2 separate regions of the Homo sapiens genome follow, and region 2 is linked to region 1. A link means that fine-mapping ties the variant in region 1 to the expression of a gene that starts in the linked region. Tissue or cell type: spinal cord. Region 1 holds a variant in brackets; the other region holds the start of a gene. All regions are shown on one strand. Distances are from middle to middle.

Region 1 (8,108 bases):
GGTCACAACTAGATGCCTTTTCGTGTAACCGTATCTTGAATGGAACAAACATTTTCTTTCTACGTAATTATACATAAATAACTCAATGCTTTTTAATACCCATGAAAAGCCATTAGCTCAAAGACACTTGCAAACTTGTATCAGGTTGTTTTCCTTGGTGTGTATTAAGTTTGAAGCAAAGGGGATTTTCACATACCAAGACGAAGCAGAAGTCTTCCACCAAGTTGAAATCATCACGTTGCAATTTAATCATGTGATACAACCAATTTTTTGATGTGTTATGCCATTCGCCAAATACCAAAAATTTTTTAGGGGAAACTTTACATCCTCAATACTATACACTTCCAGCTACACCACCACCTAACAGGGACTTTAAAAAGAATACAAAGTACGGTATGCCTTCTCAGTGCCTTGTTAGTAATTCAGTTACAGTTCTGCTGAACTTTCTTTAAAGGAATACAATTCTCAATCTTACACTGTTCAGAGCACAAGCATAGCTTATTGTATACAAGAGATGTGCATCAGTTCCCACTCCTCAGGGACTGTATGAATTTGGCTTTATTTTTATTTATTTTTTTGACGGAGTCTCACTCTGTCACCAGGCTGGAGTGCAGTAGTGTGATCTCAGCTCACTGGACTCTGCCACCCGGGTTCAAGTGATTCTCCTGCCTCAGCCTCCCAAGTAGCTGGGACTACAGGTGCACACCACCATGCCCAGCTGATTTTTTGTGTGTTTTTAGTAGAGACGGGGTTTCACCATGTTGGCCAGGATGGTCTCGATCTCTTGACCTCATGATCTACCCGCTTTGGCCTCCCAAGGTGCTGGGATTACAGGCATGAGCCACTGTGCTGGGCCAAATTTGGTTCTTAGAAACCAAGGAGTGATGTGTGCACCAGGCCCAGGGCTGAAGAGCTGCTTCTCACTAGATGCCTCTCTTGGTCTGGCTGCTGTGTCCAGTCCTATCCAGGGTTAGCTCTGTTCCTCCTTCTTGCGGCATCTGTGTTTCTCTTTCTGCTCTGCCTCTCCCCATCTCCTAGTCCAAACATCCAAAGAAATTAATTACCTCCAGGAGATCGAGACCATCCTGGCTAACACGGTGAAACCCCGTCTCTACTAAAAATACAAAAAATTAGCCGGGCATGGTGGCGGGCGCCTGTAGTCCCAGCTACTTAGGAGGCTGAGGCAGGAGAATGGCGTGAACCTGGGAGGCAGAGCTTGCAGTGACCCGAAATCGCGCCATTGCACTCACGCCTGGGCGACAGAGCAAGACTCTGTCTCAAAAAAAAAAAAAAAAAAATTAATGACCTCTGCCCCTAACTGAACAAAGCCCTTCATCTAAGGCCACCCTTTGGTTGGCAGCCTTAGCCAGACATCTGCTTCTGGTCAAATCAATGTCTTGTCCACAGGGAGGCCCAGCGCTGTTTCTGGTTTTAGCTGGATGCAGGGTGTCAGACATGGCAGGTACTACGGTCTACGTGGCGGGTATCAAAGAGTTGGTCGACGTTCTCACAACAACCTAATAGGGACCAACCATGGAAGGCCAGTAGTAAAGGAGTTTGAAGTTCCCTTTCAGAAACCAATTAACAACCCCAAAGAGACAGTGTGTAACATAAAAGAGCTGCCATAAAAATATACAGTTAAACATATTTAATAGAAATATTAAAATAATCATTACACTTCCTCTCATTGCAGAAACCATGAAAGAATATGCCTTTTGTAATCAATTTTTTATCATGCAAAAAAGTATTTTGTTATGACATTTGTAAGTGGAGACTATATTTCAAAACAAGTTTATACAGACTTCAAAAGGTCTCAAGTCAAAGAGAAAGTGAAATATATTTAAATATGATTAGTTACATCTAATGCAGCTGGCATACTCATATTCACAGTTTATAAAGTAAAAAAACTAAACTCTTCATGTCGGCTCTGAAATAGATGCATTTTCATTCATACATTCGCTAGTTAGGTCTGTTCTTCTAAGGAGGAAAGACGAGACATATGAGATATTTTTTAAAGAACAAACTCAACATATCAGCAGCAAATTTCAGTTAAACTAAATTGGAAACCAATGTTCTGTGTAACCAAAGTGCAAAGTCAGTTCCCCAGCTCAGAAAGAAAATTAAGAGTATAAACTGAAGGCTTAAGAGAACTTCAGAGAGCATACTATGTGATTAATACATAAATATTAAAAATTATCCAATTTTTGATTTAAGAACAACACAGTTTGGATCTAGTCATTAAAACATATGCAGAGGTGTCAAAGGCAAGTAACACTACCACCTAAGGTTATTCAGAGGAACTGTGAAGATGTAGCACGGACCTCTAAGGTGTCTAAAATCCCTTCTGATGGAAAGCTTATGGAACACTATCTGCCAAAAACACTGAAAGCACCACTTTTATATTTAGATCCAATGCTGAGTGATATAGTCACTGTTGGGATAGGTTTTTATTTGGGAAAATGGAGAGGATTCTCAAAACAGATTCATGGCTTGCATGCAGTGACACCCTATCAAGAGCCTGGAAAGACACCATGAAATCACCTCAACTCAAGTGGTGGGCCCACCTACTCATAGTCAGTGTTACATTAGCCAGCTCTAGGGCTCTGACAACATAATGAGTTTTGAGATAGTATACTTTAAAGAAAAAAAGAAGAGTTTATTTTAAAGCAAATAACTAAACTGTATTTTAACTTAGCACAATTAACTGCAGCATATTTACTTCATAGCCCCTTAACATGTCACTTTTACCAACAAAGCTTTTTCCTTCATATTCTAATCACAAAAATTTCTCAACAATTTATAACAATCTGTAAATCTGACCTTGCAATAAATAGTCATAAAATGTTATTTTTATTACTATTATTATTTTTAGAGACAAGGTCTCGCTCTGTTCCCCGAGCTGGAGTGCAGTGGTACAATCACAGCTCACTAGCCTCAAACGATTCTCCAGCCTCAGCCTCCCAAAGTAGTGGGATTTCAGGCATGAATCACCACACCTGGCCTTGAAACATTATTTTTAAAGCCTAAATTCCAGTTGGTATGGTACCAAAATTTAGTTTAACTTCAAAATTCACAGTACTGCCGAGAAATGGGCGGGTCCTGAGGTTCCAGAGAAGTGGGGAGTGAATTCATTCCTGGTGGTTTTATTCTGGCAGCATGCATGGGAGATCACATGAGTTAGAGGGCTGTGGCCTGGTATCAATACTTCAAGCTGTTGTACTTTTACTTCAAGTTGAAACTTTTAAAATACATCTGTCATATAGATGTACAAATATATGTAAATGCAAACATATACACACTTTTTGACAAAAGAATGATGGTAATACACATGAACCATTTTTGTAAATAGATTTTATTTGGTTAATAAAAATATTCCTTCCATCAACCTATCGAAGTCCAAACCAACTACGAAGATAGGATGCCCATCCAGAAGAACGGGAAGCATTTTATTCCTCACCTTTGGAAAGTAAAACAAAAAAAAAAGAAAAAAGAGAGTATTAAAATTTCTCAATGTAAAATCTATATTTTAGAACCACTCTACAATATAAGCAAATAATGTCTTTTTTACTGATCACATGCCTTTTTTGTTGGGGGGGGGGGGTTCTTTTTTTTTTTTTTTTTTTTTTTTTGAGACAGGGTCTTGCTCTGTCACCCAGGCTGGAGTGCAGTGGCGTGATGAGACTTCAGTGCAGCCTTGATCTCCCAGGCTCAAGTGATTCTCCCACCTCAGCCTCCCAAGCAACTGGGACCACAAGGTGTGTGCCACCATGCCTGGGTAATTTTTTGTTTTTTTGTAGAGATGCAGGTCTCACTGTTTTCCAGGCTGGTCTCAAATTCCTGGGCTCAAGTGATCCTCCCACTTCAGCCTTACAGTGTTGGGATTACAGTCACGAGCCACTGTACCCAACCATATGTCATTCTTTAGACACACTGCTTACTAAATTTCTCTTTTTAAAGGATATACTGAATTTCCGGTTGAGCCAACTTAACAGCTAATTTTCTATTTTAGCTTTAAAACATTGATAAGCAACATGAAGCAATCTAGAACTTAACCTTTAAATGGCTTTATTAAAGCAATCCAGCTATGAAAATTATGCAGAAATGATTATCTACAATCTTACCAGCACATAAGAAATTCTTCCTCTATTCTGAAATACCATCTTCTCACAATATACTTTGATGTTATGAATCAATGTCTGTTCTTGAACATTATTTATTGTCTTTCTCTATTAAACAATTCCAAAATAAAATTTCCAGCACAACTAAATATTGTTGATGATAAGAGGATTTTAAAAAAAATTCTTTTAAAACAGAAGCTTATATACAACTTAGAATCTAAAACCAATAGATTTATGGTAAACCTTAAAACTGAACCAAAACAAACAAAAACCAAAGTTTTAATCATTTAAAAATCATGTTTATTGAGGTACAACTTACTTATAGTAAAACCTGCCCTTTTCAGCGTATAGCACTGAGTCTTGACAAATGCACAGTTACGTACCACCACCGA[C/A]CAAGGCCTGGCACATTTTCACCTCCTCAAAGTTCTCCCTGGCTGCTTCTCCCACTCCTTGGCAACCGCTAACCTGTTTTCTGTCCTTATAGTTCTGCTTTTTTCAGTGTCATATAAGTAGAATCACACTGTACATAGTATTTTGAGTCTGACCTCTGTCAACTGGCATAATGCATTTGAGAATTATCCATGTTGCTGTACTGGCAGTGCATTCTTTTTTATTGCTGAGCAGTATTCAATTGCATGGCTGTACCAGTTTGTTTATTCATTTGCCAGTTGAAGGATAACTGAGATCTTCCTCGTTTTTAGCAATTTTAAAGAAAGTTTCTACGAATAATTGTGTACAGGTTTTTAATTAAATGTTTTGGAGATATAATTCATATACCACATAATTCACCTTTTTAAAGTGCATAATTCACTGGTTTTTAATATATTCACAAGGTTTGTGCATAGGATTTTGTGTGAATACTGGTTTTCATTCCTCTTGGATAAAGATTTAATTTGGCATTACCCTTCCAGACACCATTCTGTGTTTTCATACGTATATATGTATGACAGTTTGACCTTACGCAGAGTAGCATTTTCAAAATTTTACATGGGGAAACTTTCTAGAGTTAAAGTCATTTTATTTTTCTGTTCTGTCTGGTTTTATCTGCGTGTTATTTACAATCTGCTGCGTAACAAATTACTACAAACTTAGTACCTTAACACATATTTATTTCACAGTTTCTGTGGGTCAGGAGATCAGAAATGGTTCTATTTCAAGGTCTCTCACAGGGCTGCAATCAAGATGTTGGCATGGCTGGGGTCTCATCTGAAGGCTGGACTGGAGAATCTACTTCCAAACTTATGTGGTAGTTGGAAGAGTTTAGTTCCTCAAGGCTGCTAAACTGATGGCCTGTGTTCCTTGCCTCTGGGATGGTAGCTTGCTTCAACAAAGTGTGCAAGCAGAGAAGACAGAGAGAGTCCACTAGCAAGATAGAAGCCACAATCTCTTGTAATCTATCATTTTTGCTGTATTCTACTGGTTAAAAATAACTCATTAGGTTAGCCTACTGGCTCTGAAGGGGAAGAGATTATACAAAGGCATGAATTTCTGGAGGAGGGAATGAGGGCAAAGAACTCTGAAAAGTCTCTCTTCCACAATCTGAAGAACTTCTAGAAAGTAGAAGGAAGCGATATTGCTTAGGGATGGACAACTTGGCACTGGTTATGTGTTCCAAGTGAGGTAACCTTGTTCCCAGGAATAAAGAGAACCAGATGACTGTAAACATTTCCCTAAACTGAAATGCACTGTTGTATGTTCACCTGCAATGAATGGTGTAAGCTGAATATAAGATTTTTGACAAAATAAAAATTTTGCTGTGTTCTCAGATCTGGCAGGCTCCTGCCCTTGTGCAAACAATGTTCCTGGTAACTATTCATCTCCTTAGGTAAATAAGAATTGGAGAAAAGCTGTGCTTAGATAGGGTGCATTTGCTCTTGCCTTGGAAGGTTGTTTTCTGATAAGGTTCTATATCCTCTGCAAATCAAATCAGGCACTTACAGTGTGAGTATGCATTCTCTTCCTGCCAGTCTGGAGATGATCAAAAAGCCTATAACAGGCTTGGCCTATTTTCCTATTGGGTTGCTGGGCTTTTTTTCTTTATTTACTTGTAGAGAGTTTTAGACCTCTGTGTATGTATGGTGTACAAGTGACAATATTCAGATCTGTAAACTGTAACCCAGTCTGGGAGCAAAGAAGATATAGAAAAATGACTTTTACTTCCGGCTTGAGTAGTAAAATTGAGATTCAAATTTTGCATATAGAAGTACTATATGGCTAACTTATTTGGGGAGCAAAGCTGACTTACCATAAGTCTATCTCAAATAGAAATGAAACACTCAATTTGTGAAATATGCTGAGTTTTAATGCGTGTGGGGGCAGGGTGAATTAACATTTGTGATGCAAGGAGAAGAGCAATCTATACTTACCACTGTCTATTTGACATTGTTTGGGGACTACTGCTACACTCTAAGTCATTTTACCTTATAACGCAGAGTTGTAACACGCTACTCTGAGCAGCTCATGACATCTGCTTGAAATTTAAGTTGGGCCCCTAGTATGTGTTTATTATAAAGATTTTGATGCTGCTTTTCAGAGTTGGGTAACCTACTTTACCCCCTAAGCTAATGTTTCCCAAATACACCCAAACCCACAGAAAGGAAAACTATTCATCATTAACTCACAGCCAACATCATAAACATTTTATATCTAGAGCTGATGATACAGTCAGGTATTTACCAACACTCATGTATATATGTAGAGTGTCAAGAAATAATTGCTTATCCTTACTAGATTCAACATTAGCCTTACTAGATTCAACATATTCTAATGTTTCACATATTATTTTTATTTCTTAATTTTTTTTAAAGATGGGGTTTTACTCTGTTGCCCAGGCTGAAATGCAGTGGCGTGACCAGGATTTCGACCAGAAGTTCGACTGCAGCCTCGAACTCCTTATAACAAAGAATCCTGCTGCCTTAGCCTCCCGAGTAGCTAGGACTATGGGCACATGCCACCAGAACTGGCATATTTTAAAATTTTTGTAGACATAGGGTCTCGCCATGTTGCCCAGGCTGATTCTGAACTCCTGTTCTCAAGCAATCCTCCTGCCTGGTCTTCTCAAACTGTTGGGCTTACAGGTGTGAGTCACTGAGCCCAGCTTGTATTCTTTTGATTTTAAAAAAATATTCTGAATGTGATCCACCAAATTAATTTCACCATCCACTAATAGGTAGCAACCTGAATGAAAAATACTATTATAAACTTTACACAAAACCAGAGATTATAAACATTTGCTTCCAAGGAGATGAGAGAGGTAAAAGGTACTTGTTTGCTCTGATGGGCCCTGTTTCCTTCAGTGCCAGGAAGAGTGGCTCTCAGACCTTTCTTCTAGCATCCCTCATGTATGCAGTGTTGGTTATTATTTTCAAGGCCTTGGTAACAAAATGCCCCCCTAGTGTGACCAGTCAGACTGACAGTCCATATCTGTAATATGGTGGTAAGTTTCCTTTGCATGTCTTTCTTTCTGGCATCTTAGACCTTTTACCTAGGAAATTTTCTTTTTGCTTGAAGTACATCATTAAGAATTTTCAGTGAAGGCAGATTCTTAAAGTTTTTGTTTTCCAGAAGAGATCTTGGAAAATATAAAAGGTTGGCAGTTATTTCTTTTAGTACATGAGATAGTATTACACCAATGCTGTTGAGAAGTCTATTGTGAGGCAATGTGTCTTCTTTCTCTGGCTGCTTTTGAGATTTCTGTCTGTCTTTTTTAGGGGCAGTTTTACTCTTATGTGACTAGAAGTAGATTTCTTCTTTTTTTTTTTAATACTGCTTGAGATTTTATTGGGTTTTTGAATCTGTGGATAGATATCCTTCAACAGTTCTGAAAGATTTCCAGCCATTCTCTTCATATATTATCTGTGCTGTATTCTTGTCTCTCCTTTTAGAACTTCGATTAGTAAAAACATGTTTGATGTCTTTTCCCACTCTTGTTTTTTGTTTCTCCCATGCTGAATTCTGTGTAATTTCTTTTGAACTATCTTGTAGTTTACT
Region 2 (8,108 bases), 97 kb before region 1:
AATGTTACCTTAAGGCCTAGACTACCTAGCACTCAGAAGAAGGTAAAATGTGAACTGCATACATACTTGCAATTCTATATTTTAATATGGATCTTTTAGTAAGATATTTACTATTTGACAAGAAGTAATGAAAAATGTCTTATTCAGATAAATAAAATTTATGTAGCACAATAGCTGAGGCAAGGAGGTCAAAGAACCAAAGAAAATGAGTTTTGACTTAACAGGTTTGAGCCAAGAATGATCTACAGATTAATATTTTTCTCTGAATAGACAATGTAATGCTAGCACCATTTTCTCTGAGGAAACAGTATAATATTGAATCCTTGCTGAAAAACTAATGTTGAAGAGGACACTAAATCTTTGCAGTTTACACCTTGTTGAGGTTACAGTACAGTCAAAATATTCTAAGCAATCCTTATACAGAATTTGTGTAAAGTTATGATGGTCACAGGTTGGTAATAAAAATTTATCAGATATGAGGCTGAATTCTGGATTGCATCATCCCATTAGGAATAAAATTTAACTCTGATGAATTTTCCAAAATCTCACAGTTAGAATGTAAGTAAATGAAATAATATCTATACAAAACTACCTAGGATGTGTTTCTATTGTGTTTATGGCAAAATTTATCTGGCTTTTAATCTAATACAAAGCAAAGAAGAGGGAGTCTTAGGGTTGACATAAAAAGATTTTCCTACATAGGAATTTTGAGTACATTTAAATGAAAAGTTTATATACAAAATCCTGGAGACAAATACGTATTTAGCAATCACTCCCACCTTTGCTGTAGCTTTTACCCTCAGTGTTAACAAATAACAAAAATAACAAATGGCATTATTTGTTTTCTTATTCTAAGCCCTGCTGAAATTTTTAAAATGGCTTTTTTTTTTCACTGTGTGTGTAACCATGAGCTGAAGAAATGAATTCTTACAGGCAGAAAACTTGAGACTTTATCTTTCTACCAGGCAACTGGAATTGCTAACACGTCAATGTTTTACTGCATAAAGTAAATGGTCTGATGGTCTTACAAGCACAAAGCTCATTAGTGATCATTCGTCATTGTGTAAGTCTACTGTCCCTTGTCCAAAAAGAAAATTGGTGACTGAATCATTGCAACTATTGTGATATAGAAGTGAGGGCTTGGCTACTTACTAAGATTTAAAAGTCCCCTTTATAATTGAATTTAGTCTCTTCTATAACAGTATTTGCTCTCCTTGTTTGTATATTTTGTGTCAGATCCATGAGTGAGAACACAACCTCTTAAAATATATTCATTTTTAAAAGAATCAACATTTTTTATCTCTATTCTTTATAAAATATATCCAAGTCAATCAATCTGACAAGGTTAGGTAGTATGGTTCAGATTTTAAATGAATTATGATATTGACCAAGGTTATTTTGAGTTCTGAGAAAGAAAAAAAAGTTTTACGAACTGAGGAAGATCATGGCCCTTTATAAAAAATAGCATGATTCAAATATTTTCCGTACCTTTTAATAGCTTGTTAGGTTGAAAAAAACCATTCTAAATGGTAAAAACAAAATATAAAATATTATTTTTATGACCATATTAAACAGAATATTAAATGAGAATAGTAGAGGGCTATAATTATTTTCAATAAACAACATATTTTGATATGCAGCAGCTTTCTTATTCTTTCTGCAGTGTTTACAAACTGTGCACCTTTTGAAAGAAATAAAGTGAAACTAGTTACAGGGCTGCATGTGGCACAGCATGGGGCGGTCACCAGCATGACGCAGTACTTGCATTTTGGAACTAAGTTACCGGAGACCTGTGTTTGGTTCTGGCTCCAGCCCTGGTCCTTGTTAACCTTGTAACCCGGGATCTCCACTTAACCCCAGATGCTCATCATAATGCCGTTATAAAGACCAAATGAGTCCACGTACAGTAGATGAAGAGTTAAACAAAGATAAAATGTCAATGTCTGAAAGATAAAACTGATGGCTCACATAGAACACTGTAAGTTTCAGATTGCCAAAGTCAAGGGGTTCAGAACATGAATGGCCTCTCCCCAGACTGGTTTGGTAAACTATCTGATATACACGGTGAATCATTTTAAAATTGCCCTTCGGGACTGAAATTGGGCATCACTTGATATCATTTCCCATGGGATATTTTTCCAATGAACGCTCACAGTTCTTGCTATGTTGCAAATGTTTAAAAACTCTACTAAGACTGTATAATGAAATATGTGTTGTTAGTGCAACTGTATTAAATATTAAACATATAATTCTAAGTTGATGTTTTTCAGAATTATTTTCAACGACCAAGAAGAATATAAAAAAGAAACAAATCACCCTTTAAACAGAACCACTTTAGTGCAAAGTAAGAAAGAATATCAGCTCCTGCTAACACAAAGAAGGTTTGAATGAGAGATGACTGCAGATGGTGGCCTGGGGATTCCTATGAGGACACACCCTAGCTTTTCCCTTTTATAACAAGGTTCATGAAATCTCTTTATTAGTGCTGTGGACTCATAACATGTGATTGTCTTCCTGTGAGGAATTAGTTATTAAATGAAAGAATTAGGTTTCAAAACAGGGAATCACTCAATTGGGAATATCATCACCCCCAAATTTATTTATGCAGATTAAAAACCATCACTAGATGGTATTCATTGGCACTTATTTAAATCTCAAAGTCACAACTTTATGCATGTATTACCGGACACGTTGAGATGCTGCCTATCACATTAATTAGCAGATACATAGCTTGTAATACTAGGACAGCTTCCCATTCCCCCACCTCTTTGTTTTTACTCTGTTTCCACCCACTCAATAGCCCAGGGAGCCAAGATTTGTTTCATGACTGTTCAGTCCAGTGATTTATTATAAAATCATTTTTGTTCAAGTACTACTGAGTTGAAACCAATTTATTTTTAGGTTTTAAATCAATAGAAAATTATTTTAAAATATATATAACTAGTGAACATAAAGAATCCCCAAAGGACAAAGACCAACATTTGCTTTGTCACTCTGAAGCCACACGCTGCACACTCACAGATGCCAAGGAAGGGAGGACTGCATGGAGCCGGCGGCGTCTGAACGTACCTGTCATGGTAAATCCACCAACCAATAAACCAATATCTCGGCCACCAACTATGATGGCTTCGCTGCGCTCTTCTGCGCTGCCACTGTTTTTGGTTCTCCAGGCAGCCCATATTCCAACCAGCAAAATTAGAAGGTAGAACACGATGATAGCTATCAGTCCTTCCACATGGAAAGCCATTTTTATCTAATGATCCAGATTCTTCTGCAGCTGGCTACTTCATTAAGTCTTCTGAAGAAAATACAGGGATGCATTATAAACCAGTCAAGCACTATGCACATGTAGGCAGCCAGGAATAAACCAGCTGGCTCATGCGAGATCCTGTGCCACTCACAGAAAGAGTACAACCCTGAAACCACACGTGAAACGGGCAGTTAACAATAAGTGTCCACTACATTATCCTACTTCTATTTAACAATTTAACATTATTTTGAGTTTGCAAGAAACAGAAAAAAAAACGGAAATGTAGTTTAACAAATGGAATCATAATCCTTGTGTGTTTCATACATGCTTTAAATTTAAAATTAACCTTGTCGTGTATATCTTAACTCAGTAACTGTCAAATCATTTACAAAGAGTAGCGCTGTATCTGCGTTTTGGAACTAAGTTACTCTTCTAGAATTATTTATTCTAGAAGTGTTAAGTGTTTCATAAATGACCATTCTGAAAATTTTAAAATATTCATTAATTTATTCATTCTTTTATCTGTCCTTTCAAACAACTTCAGAGAATGGCTTCAGTAGTAATCTGATATAAAAATATCTGAAAAAAATCTTTAGAAAAATCCATTTCAAAAACACATCAAACTCCACATTTTCAACAAGCTTCTGTAGTTCAAGTTACTATAGCAACTAAGTATGTTTTTTGTTGTTGAAAGGATCCATTCTCTTGATCTTCTTCGCCCAATATCCTTCATTCAATTCATCACCCCCCATTAATGGTACATACAGGAAAAGGTTTTGTTGTTGTTGTTGCTGTTGTTTTAAACACAATTGCCTAAAAGCACATCAGAAGCCTCAAAGATATTAAAATCAAGACTCTTAGAAGACAGATGTCAAGTTCGAAAGCATTCACCTTCTGAAATTCTTGTCCCCTTTTATTTTTATTTTTATTTATTTTTTACCTTTGTGACCACAGCTGTTCCATGAACCCAAACTCTCACATACAAGTTTCTGGGGGAAACTCTGACATTTGTGCGTGCAGGTGGGTGAAGAGACGTTGGGGGAAAGAATCAGCCTCTCTGGAATTTAAAGGAGGCAAAAGAAGCGCCCGCGGGCTGTGTCTTCTCTGCCTTTGTGAGCAACCAAGCAGGCAAGTTCCTCTCCGCAGCAGCCCGATGCTCTCCCGGCCCCCTGCGGCCTTTCCTCGGCCCCCTCTACCCATTTCCTGCGCCCAGACTTTGTAGCCTCTTGCACCCTGACAGCAACGGTGCCAGACAGCAAACCCGCCCTCGCATCCCACCGAGAGGGAAAAACGCCGCGTCCCTCCCCTCTAAAACCGCCCGGGCTCGGTGCCCAAGGCGTTTCCGAGGGTGCGGGCCCGTAGGCGCAGGAATGCCCGCTCCGCTCCTACCTGGAGTGGTGGCTGCACGCGAAAGCGCTCCGCCCGGGGCCGCCGCCCCCTGGAACCGCGAGGGGTGTGGGTGCGAGGGTGCAGAAAGGGAGGGTGCGGGGTGGGTCGGGGTGCAGTGCGGAGCGGGGCCGGGCGGTCAGGGCGGCTCCTCACTCGGCGTCTCCAAGAACCTGGGAGCGCGCAGAGTTGACAGGTGTTGGCGCCGGCGGAGGGCGCGCGGCGCAGGGCGAGGTGGGAATCGATCGAGTATTGGGAAAAGTCCCCTTTATAAGGGCGGCAGGCGGGGGCGATCGTCAGACATCCGGAGGCGGACGTCAGAGGAGAGTGGTGCTAGGGCGTGTGCTAGGGACGCTGCCCTCGCGAGGAGGGTGGGTGTGCGGGATGCGAAGGAAACGGGGCCCAAGGAGCTGGGGGGCAGGCTGGGCTCTGGTCCGCGCTGCCAGCCATGGTATCCCCATCCTGAGACAAGTACCTGCTACTCCCATCTCCTCCTCCAGAAAACTGGGCGGAGATTCCTTAGGGTGATTCCCAGTCGAACTTCTCATCCCTCTGGTTGGAAGCTGGGAATGGGGAGGGTCTCAGAGGATTATATTTTCAGAAGCAGCAGCTGGAAGCCTAGAGGAGAGAAGTGTCCTGTTCTTTTCTTCCCAGGTCAGAGTCTGGAATTGTTTCCTGACGAGTCTCTCTGAGAGGGAAGGGGTCCTCTCCCGCGGCCTCCCCTGGGCCCTGTTGGAAGCTGTTCCTGGCGTCCCTGGTGATGGGCTCCCTGAAGGAGACATTTCAGGAAGGTTTAGAAAGTCCTTTTTACATTCATACCCCTGCCACTTAAAAGTAGGGCTACCATGAAGGACACTAGGCGTGGTCCAGATTAACAATGAGGTTATCACAGAAGTCAGACAAGATGGCTTTCCTGGTAGAGCCCTTTGGGCAGCTGGCCTGCTGAATATCCTATTCCAGCTTACAAAAATTTGCTGTGTTAGTTTACAATATATCCATATACCTACCTATTTTTATAGATTATTTATATATTACACATATAAATATGTATCTATAGATGTATTTCTACATCTAGGTGTACATGGATAGATGCAGATACCTGTGTGAATGTGAATGGAGGAAGAGAGAAGGGTGGGAGAGAATAAGATAGAAGAGTCACAAGCCACAAAGCTACAAGCACTCTGGCCACTTTCTCACTTCTTTCCGCATTCCACCATGAGAGTGTATTTAACAGTGAAATACACAAGTCTAATAAGGGATAGAATAAATAAGAGTGCCTCTGAACTACTGTTCACCTCTCTAGGCCAATCAGACCATCTCCCCTTTTCTTACACTGGATTTTGAAATTAACTTCCAAATTTATGTTACTACCCCTTTTCTTTCTTCTCTGTATAAACAATAACTGCATCCAACTACCTCTTTTGAGGTGAGAAAGCCTAGGGAGTTCAAACAGAAATTAAGACGGGCCAAAAGGCCTGCAAAGATAGTTATTTCCCCTGGGTAATATGACTAGTTCATTGATTTTCTGGAAAAGACTTAGGTTGCCTTTTAATATAACCCCATTTTTACATACACATTTTATTAATTTAAGCAATTTTAAGGAACTGACAGAGCGAAACAGAGATGGGATTTCATATAATTACCCATGTGTTTTAAAAGAGGTTCATTCATTCATTCATCCATCCATTCATTCATTGTTTTTGTCTTCTATAACTCATTTTCTGATTCTGGGCCTTAGCCTCAGGTTAACTGATGTATTTCCTGCCAGAATATACTAATGATGATGATGACACACAGCTTATTGCTGTAGCAGGGCAGGCATGGGCAATTGCAGTGTCTGAAATAGTGCACAGGCCTAAGGTCAGGGAGCTTGACTCAGATCCAAAGAGAGACTGAAGAGGCAGCCGTCCTCAGAGAACATCACCAGCCTTTCGGTATGAGAATTGGGAGTGCAGCCAAAGCACACCTCCCAGAGCCCACCTAATCCACTTTGACAAGCCAGGCTTGCCAGACTATGGACTCAGTGCCAGATCTGAGAATGGACAATGACCTTGACAGTGGCCAAATTCTTGCCTGGCAGAGCGGCTGTCCTCCATGACAAGAAACACCAGTTGAAAATGACAACTGCTGATGAATTGAGTCTAGTTCTGGGGAGACATTTCCTCATTTGCTGAGTCCTTTGCGCTCCGTGTCTGATCTAAGGATGAAGCTGCATGTGAATTTCTGTGCCAAGGTGTAATTTCCCAGACACCCATTTCTCTTTTGTCTTTAATATTGGTACTTTAATGTGTACCTCTTCCTCCACTCTCCTGAGAATATGTTATCATGCACGGACTTAGGGAACTACATGTCAGTGGGAGATCAATTCCCGCTTTTGGGGAGAAAAAGCAGGTTTTGCATTTATAAATCATTTATTTTTTAAAAACACATTTTCTAAGTGCCTTTTACATTCTGAACACTGTTCTCAGTACTGAGAATACATGTAGAAAATTATACAAACCTTGCCCTCAAGTAACTTATCCATGAAAAGAAAGAAGGAACAAACAAGCAAAAGCTGCACTTCTATATACTATTGTAAGTGCTGAGAAGGATGTAGCATATCTGTACACACAGATTCTAGGGAAAGTTCAAACAAAAGGTCTTAATCAGATGGAGGAATTCTTCTCGGAGGAGCGGGGAGAGTCATTTATTCAATAAATATATAAAAACACCTGGCCGGGCACGGTGGCTCACGCCTGTAATCCCAGCAATTTGGGAGGCCGAGGTGGGCGGTTTATTTGAGGTCAAGAGTTCGAGACCAGGTTGGCTAACATGGTGAAACCCCGTCTCTACTGAAAATACAAAAATTAGCCGGGCATGGTGGCACATGTCTGTAATCCCAGCTACTCGGGAGGCTGAGGCAGGAGAATTCCTTGAGCCCTGGAGGTGGAGGTTGCAGTGAGCCGAGATTGTGCCACTGCACTCCAGTCTGGCTGACAGAGAGAGACTCTGTCTCAACGAACAACAACAACAACAACAAAACACCTGCTGCTTTGTGCTAGGTATATACTCAATTGATTGAAATGAAAAGATCCCTGTCTTTAATAGGTTAACACCCTCTGACCTTGCCATTCAAAGTACACTTCATGGAACAGCAGCGTCAGCATTACATTTTTCTTTTTTAATAACAGCTTTGGTAATTTGAGAATGTCATCACTTGGTCTATACATTTTGAACATGCTTCAAATATGATCCAAATGCATATTGAGACTGTGGGGGCCCATTTTGCTGAAGTTATTATCCTTCCTAATGCTCCAGTTTCCCCATACAATGTCAACTCAAATCTTTCATACTTTTTAATGGATTACATTTAGCTTAAATTAAAATTGGCCAGTCATTTCCAAACCAGGGTGACTATCGGAATTGTAGAGTTCTTGAAAAATTGCAGATACTAAGGCCCCACAGCATGAATTCTGACTTTGTATATCTTGGG

Which allele goes with the higher level. Positions count from the first base shown, and alleles are read on the strand shown. Sizes are in standard deviations (SD) of each study's normalised expression.
With allele C in place of A in region 1, the expression in spinal cord of the gene that starts at base 4,879 in region 2 is higher (large effect, 0.85 SD a copy in GTEx).

What was found. PIP is the estimated chance that this variant, and not a neighbour inherited with it, causes the effect.
Region 2: SLC5A7 starts here. The variant in region 1 is fine-mapped to the expression of SLC5A7 in spinal cord (GTEx, PIP above 0.99).

The regions. Positions count from the first base shown.
Region 1 is chr2:107,886,070-107,894,177 of GRCh38, reverse strand. It overlaps RGPD4 (RANBP2 like and GRIP domain containing 4), which reads right to left. Exons shown (of 23, transcript NM_182588.3): 23 at 1,634-3,457. The coding sequence ends at 3,447. All of the region lies in intron 1 of LOC124906057 (a long non-coding RNA gene), which reads left to right. Among named protein-coding and RNA genes, the nearest start is that of RGPD4, 63 kb to the right of the region's middle. The variant C/A (reference allele first, on the strand shown) is at 4,511.
Region 2 is chr2:107,983,295-107,991,402 of GRCh38, reverse strand. It overlaps SLC5A7 (solute carrier family 5 member 7), which reads right to left and starts at 4,879. Exons shown (of 9, transcript NM_021815.5): 1 at 4,640-4,879; 2 at 3,070-3,298. The coding sequence starts at 3,247.